Homo sapiens: one gene and its partner. The protein of the gene in region 1 interacts with the protein of each later gene in a pairwise test. Each region holds a gene or a part of one and is shown in the gene's direction. Other genes may lie near its edges.

Region 1 (3,650 bases):
TACAAGTAGCTTGTGGCAGAGCTGCCAACCTTGTAGTTGAGCAGCCTTCCTTGGGGCACAGGGCCTGGGGTCCCTGCTGCTCTCCAGCTGGGGAGCTTGGGCAGCATAGGACCCCTTCAGCCTCAGCTGTTTTGGCACTGAAGTAGCCTTTATGGGAAGGTGATAGCTTTTCATCCTCTGAGAGAGGAGGGCTGGCATCCTGGGAGGGAGAAATTGGCTTTTCTGATGTCTGCTGAAAGAGCTCAGACAGAGGAAGAGGGAAATGTGACTTGGAAATGAGAGGCACGAACTGTTTCTGAACTAGCCCCAGGTGGCTGCTGGAGAGGACACGACGCAGGGCCAGCCCTTCTCCTGGTTCACAGTGGATATGAGCCTGGGATGGCAGGTGAGGAGCTGCTCACGACAGCCTCCCTGACGTTGGTGGGTGTGAACCGCCTCCCTTCCACACAGTGGGAAGAAGCGCCTTCTTAGGTCTCATTGCCCAAGGACGCAGTAAGAATCAGGAAACAGTCTGAAACAGTCAGAATGGAGGTTCTCAGCAGACAGTGAGATTGCCTCCCTGGGCAAAGAGGCTCCTGACCGCCCCTCTGTGATGTTGGAAGAGATGTTGGGAGTGTAACTGAGGGTGCAAAGGCCCTGGAGATTGGAGAGTCGAGAAAGCTGTAACAGGAGGCTGAGGAGCTGTGCCTGGTGGATGTCTACTAAGCCGGTTGGGCCATTCTGCTGGTGTGGGACCCCGCGAAGAGGCTGGCCAAGCCAGATTGAAACACCCAATCAGTGCCCAGTGGTGCCCATGCGGGAAGGTGCCGGGTGTTTGCTATTTTCTGTGGGCTGATATGAGCAGGGTCCGGGGCTGAGCAGTATCTCTGTGGTCCCTGGATCTTCAGCATCTCCGGAGTATGCTGCTCCGGAGTATGGGGTGCAGTTTGCCACACCTACCCCTGAGCCGCTCTCCTCCTTACTTATCCCACCACACCTGACCCACATCACTGCACACAGCTCATGCCTGATGCTAGGCTGTAGATAGAGGAGCTCCTTGATTACCTAGGAGACATAACCAAGGCGACATGCTTAGTGACCTTCTTCCTCAAGGCAGGAAGCTGAGTTGTGTGGAGGTCTCTTCCAGGAGCTGGAGGGTTGTGTGTGTGTGTGTGTGTGTGTGTGTGTGTGTGTGTGTGTGTGTGTGACGGAGTCTCGCCCTGTAGCTCAGGCTGGAGTGCAGCGGCGCGATCTTGGCTCATTGCAACCTCCACCTCCCAGGTTCAAGCTTTTCTCCTGCCTCAGCCTCCTGAGGAGCTGGGACTACAGGCACCAACCACCACACCCAGCTAATTTTTGTATTTTTAGTAGAGACGTGGTTTCACCATGTTGGCCAGGTTGGTCTTGAACTCCTGACCTCAAGTGATCTGCCCGCCTTGGCCTCCCAAAGTGCTGGGATTACAGGCATGAGCCCCATCGCACCTGGCTGCCCTGGAGGTTTTGTATATATATGAGAAGTGGGGAGATAGGGACAGGATGTGGTAGACGTGGCCTGGTGGGGCGAAGCAGGGGACAGTGATGTGCTGGCCACTTCTTCAGTTTTCACTGCCAGTATTGCCATGGGCTCGGAGCTTTCCAAGTGTTTTATTGTAGAAAGCCTGTGCTTCTGCTTGCAGCCTAGAGGCCAAGATAGAATGAGGGCCTGTGTGCAGATGGTGAGAATCCTGCTTCTTACAGGGGACTCTTTCTGTACAGGACCCTCAAATTACAGGTTCTACAAGTCTGTTGAAAATGCATTCTGACAGCTCCTTAAAGGTAAACCTTTAATTGGATCTTTTTGTAATAAAACAATCACCCCCAACATGTTGTCTTTGATGAACCTGAAGGTTTGAGTTTTCATAAAGGTTATACCAGTAAATCCTTAAAGCTTAAGATTTACTGCTGTTTCCCCAAGTATCAAGCATGAGATATTTTTAGTGCATTTTGTTTCCTTGTGAAATATCTGGTTTTGGAAGCAAAGGGAAAGGATTCTCTTAGCCCTTTGGTCTTGGTTGAGAAGTCATGTGAGCAAGCATGTCTCCTCGTGCCAGCTTAGCTCAGTTCTCTCCTATTTTTCTTCTCTGATTTTGTTGTTTTTCTGTTTTTAAAAATTATCTGAAGCACTGAAGCCTTTGTTAAAAGATATTTTTAAGAAGGTAAAAGCATAATTGGGATACAAATATAAAATTTTCTCGTGTCAAATATTTTATTTCTCTCATTAAATAAGGAGGGATCTAACAGTGATGTTACAATTCTTGAATTCAAAAAATACAAACTCATAGAAAACCAAGAGTGCCTCAATGAATTACCAACAGATGCAAAATGGACTATTACAAGGGCAGTCAGTAATCCACTGCATCTGTGACACAGTTCATCTTCATTTCTCTGGAAAAAAAAAAAAACCATTTGTATTACTGTCAGTTTTCTACAACTTACAGGGTTGTAAAACAGCTTCAAGACAAAGTCAGAGATAGCCTGGAAGGGTGCCCTAGACAGGACACCCTGTAATTTTTAATGCCCATATAAAAGTCTTTCATAATTTTTCATGGTACCTTTAAAAATCCTTATCGTAAGTAATAAGTAAACTATCCTAGGGCTGATTGTGGCTGTTGACTGGAGGAGATGGTAGAACATTGGCAACCTTCCTCTGTGGCCTTCTTTTTTAACTGTGAACTAAAGACATGGTGGTACCTCCCTAAAATTGTTCTACGGGGTCTGAGAGAGCTGACTAGTGACCATGAGCCCTCTGGGCTCCTCTCGGATGCTCCCCAGAGAATACAGAATTAGAGAATAACCCTTTAGCCTAACCTCTACTGTCTCTCCGGTTTATTTTATAACACTGAGTGGTAGGCAGAAGACAGGGAAAGAAATCGCAAGCTGCTTATGTGGCCTGAACTGCGGTTTGTTTCCCTCCTCTTTCTTCAAGGCAGGCCTTGTTCTGATGCTTTTCTGTAGGTAAGCAAGGAGAGAATTAACATTGCCCATGTCTCTGGGACTGGGCCTGTGAGCTGCTTTTGTTTTTTGGCCATTGAGGGCCCTTGAGTATTGGTTTTGTAACTCATTTTTTTCAACAGACTTAACAAAGTGTTCCCACCAGAATTTCCCACCAGAACTTTGACTTGTCTTCTGCTCACAAATGTTTGTGTACCTCAAAATCTGATGTGAATGACTGGGTTTTAATTTAATTGCTTAAATGTAAAGTTTGCCCTTTCTGGATCCTGAGTTCTTCTGTGCACAGCCAACTAGTTCAGAATATTTGGGAAAGGACCAAACAATGGAAGTCATGGCTGCTTTGCTGGCTTGACTGCCATCGTGCCTGGCACGATGCCTAGTTCTTGGTTTTGGTGGTCTCCCCATTAGGTTCCCCATCTCTTAGGTTCCCACTGCTGCTATTTGGCCATTTGCCTGCCCATCAGGCCCCTGCCCCAAGGTGTGAACGGGAGGAGGTCTAGGTGGCTACTTAGATCGAGGAACCTGAGAAGAAAGTGGACAGCTGTTGAATCAGAAAATAGTTCAAAATTTTCTGGTTTTTGTTTTTCCATTTTCTTTCTCAGTCATTGCCACAGCCAATTTAGCTATTTAATCTTTCCTCACAAGGCTTTTTCAAAATAGATAAATAGGAAAAGAAAACC
Region 2 (3,650 bases), on another chromosome or scaffold:
AACTAGATTGGATGCTCCTTGAGAACAGGGATGATATCTTACCCACATTTTATTCCCCATACTTATAGTGCTTGACATCTGGTAGGCACTCAATTTGAATAAATAGGTGAGGGGATATACAAACTAAAACTATCACTTCTCTCCTCCACCTGTCATTTCAGTTTTTCTTCTCGATTAATGGCTTTATTGTTACATTTGACTGGTTTAAAATGTTGGGGTCATCTCTGGCTTCTTTGTATTACTGTGCACACTCAGGTAGAGCCTGTATGTTCATTTCCCTTTGACATGTTCTTCTAGTCTATTCCTCCTCCGACTTCTCTAATTGAGTCTCCTTTGTCAGACTACTGTGATAACTTCTTAATGGGGTTCACTGGCCCCCACCTCACCTTCTGTTTTTCAAATCTCACCAGTTATAGGACACTTCTGAACATGTCACACTCAGAATTGTTGATGTCTTTTGAGTTCAACCTATGCTAAAGTGCACTTTTTAGCATAGAATTAACAGCAATTGATATTTGGCTTCATCCTGCTTTTCTGACTGGATTGTCTACCATAACCTTTTATCTCCTTTTTGCTTTAGCCAGTCCGGACTGCTACTTTTCCTGAATATGGCTGGAATGTCCCACTGTATCTGTTTCACCGCATCTATGAGTCTAAGTCCTATCTTATCTATTGCACAAATATATCATGCCTACTATAGACCAGGTATTGCCCTTGACACTCAGGCTAAAAAGGTAAATGACAGGGCCGGGCGCAGTGGCTCACGCCTGTAATCCAGCACTTTGGGAGAGCAAGGTGGGCGGATCACGAGGTCAGGAATTCAAGACCAGCCTGGCCAACGTGGTGAAACCCCATCTCTACTAAAAAATACAAAAATTAGCCTGGCGTGGTGGTGGGCACCTGTAATCCCAGCTACTCGGGAGGCTGAGGCAGGAGAATAGCTTGAAACCGGAAGACGGAGGTTGCAGTGGGGCGAGATTGCACCACTGCACTCCAACCTGGGCAACAAGAGCAAAACTCTGTCTCAAAAAAAAAAAAAAAAAGTAAATGACATAATCAGAAAAGACTAAATTAGAACATGATGGGAAGTGGCAGGGCATGTCTGGAGAGACAACTGGTTTATGAACAGTTTTTATATATGTTAAGCTAAGGAATTTAAATTTTTTCTTGGGTAATTAGAAGCCATTGATAAAGTTTCTTTTGTTTGTTTTTGTTTTGTTTGTTTGTTTTGAGACAGAGTCTTAACAGGCTGGAGTGCAGTGGTGCGATCTTGGCTCACTGCAGCCTCCACCTCCTGGGCTTAAGCTATCCTCCCACCTCAGCCTCCTGAGACTGTAGGCACACTGCCACATCCAGATAATTTTTGTATTTTTTGTAGAGATGGGGTTTCACCAGGCTGGTCTTGAACTCCTGGGCTCAAGCCATCTGCCTGCCTCAGCTTCCCAAAGTGCTAGGATTACAGGGTGAGCCACTGTGCCCAGCCAATAAGTTTTAAGTAGGGGAGTAACAGCACATTTTAATTTTAGAAAATTCACTTTGGCCATAGAATGGAAAATGGTTTGGAGAAGAATGAGACGTAAAGTGAGGAGAAAAGTTAGAAGCCTAGTTTAATAGTCCAGTCAAGAGATAATACACATTTGAACTAAGGGTGCATTTGAACAAGGATGGAAATATGGATGTGGATTTTATTTGAAAGAAGTTTACAAGGCAAAATTGACAGGATCTAGTAACTCACTGAGTGATTGGGGGAATGGTAATGGAACAGGAATAGTCTTGTTTCTGACTTGATTGTCTTTAGTCAGGATAGAGAATGTAGGAGAAGCTCTTAGGATGGAGAGAGGAGTGGCATAATAAGATGATTTTTGGAAATGTTGACTTAAAAGTTTGGGTTATTCAAGTGAACTTCTCCAACTGGCTATTGGTTGTTGGTATCTGATTAAGCAGATTTGGAACTTCTAGATGTGTAAGTAAAGCCATAAATATAGATGAAGCCTCTACAAAGACTTATACATGAATGTTCATGGCAGCTGTTTTCAGTCAAAAACTGGAAACAATCCAATGTTCGTCAGCAGGTGAATGAATAAGCAAATTGTGATACAAACAGTGGAATACTATTGGTTGTTGGTATCTGATGAAGCAGATTTGGAACTTCTAGATGTGTAAGTAAAGCCATAAATATAGATGAAGCTTATACAAAGACTTATACATGAATGTTCATGGCATCTCTTTTCAGTCAAAAACTGGAAAAAATCCAATGTTCGTCAACAGGTGAATGAATAAGCAAATTGTGATACAAACAGTGGAATACTACTCAGCAATAAAAAGGAACAAACTGGCTGGGTGTGGTGGCTCACACCTGTAATCCCAGCACTTTAGGAGGCCAAAGTGGGAGGATTACTTGAGCCCAAGAGTTCCAGGCCAGCCTAGGCAACATAATGAAACCCTGTCTCTACAAAAAACTTAAAAAATTAGCCAAAACATTTAAAAAAATTAGCCAGGTGTGGTGGCATGAGCCTGTAGTCCCAGCTGCTTGGGAGGCTGAGGTGGGAGCATTGCTTGAGTCTGAGAGGTCAAGGCTGCAGTGAGGTGTGATTGTGCTATTGCACTCCAGCCTGGGCAAAAAAATGAGACCCTGTCTCAAAAAAAAAAAAAAAAAAAAAAAAAAGAGAGAGAACAAATTTGATACAAATGACAACATGGCTGAATCTCAAAATAATTATACTCAATGAAAGAAGGGAAACCAAAAAAGAGTATATACTATATGAGTCTACTTATAGAACATTCTAGAAGGTGCAAACTAGTGCAGATCAGTGGTTGTTTAGGGAGAGGCTTTTTATGTTTACTTATCTTGATTGTGCTGATGGTTTCAGGGGTGTGTACATATCCTGAAATTTTTCAGATTGTATATTTTAAATATGTGCAGTTTATTGTATGTCAGTTGTACCTCAATGAAGGTATTTTAAAAAGTAGATGAGACCACACGCTGAAAATGATTTTAGTAAGACTGAAAAAGGGCTGGCATAAGAAGTGGGGGAAGGGAGTGGGAAATAGTGTATAGGGAGATAGCAGAGGAAAAGGAATGATGTAAGGAGACCGAGAAGCAAGGAGTCAGGCAGAAGGAATGAAACCCTAGTGTCTGAGAAGTTGAGAGAGGAATGCTTCAAGAAAAGAGTTGGCTGTGTGCGATGGCTCACACCTGTAATCCTAGCATGTTGGGAGGCCAAGGCAGGTGGATCACCTGTGGTCAGGAGTTTGAGACCAGCCTGGCCAACATAGTGAAACCCCTGTCTTTACTAAAAATACAAAAATTAGCCTGACGTGGTGGTGCACGCCTGTAATCCCAGCTACTCGGGAGGCTGAGACACAAGAATCCTGGGAGTTGGAGGCTTCAGTGAGCTGAGATCACACCACTGTACTCCAGCCTGGGTGACAGAGCTAGACTCTGTTTCAAAAAGAAACAAAAACAAATCAGCCGGGCCAGGTGGCTCACGCCTGTAATCCCAGCACTTTGAGAGGCTGAGGCGGGGGATCACCTGAGGTCAGGAGTTCGATACCAGCCTAACCAACATGGAGAAACCCCATCTCTACTAAAAATACAAAATTAGCTGGGCGTGGTGGCGCATGCCTGTAATCCTAGCTACTCAGGAGGC

The links. Proteins that work in one complex are often made in the same cells at the same time.
Region 2: the proteins of SH3BP5 (region 1) and SOS1 interact in a two-hybrid assay, tested with the Homo sapiens proteins (2 studies listed by BioGRID and IntAct).

Annotation. Positions count from the first base shown.
Region 1 is NC_000003.12:15,263,049-15,266,698, reverse strand, and holds part of SH3BP5 (SH3 domain-binding protein 5), read left to right. Parts: intron 1-2,200; exon of another isoform or gene 2,201-2,403; intron 2,404-3,650. UniProt on the Homo sapiens protein: Functions as a guanine nucleotide exchange factor (GEF) with specificity for RAB11A and RAB25. Inhibits the auto- and transphosphorylation activity of BTK. Plays a negative regulatory role in BTK-related cytoplasmic signaling in B-cells.
Region 2 is NC_000002.12:39,114,422-39,118,071, reverse strand, and holds part of SOS1 (son of sevenless homolog 1), read left to right. Parts: intron 1-3,650.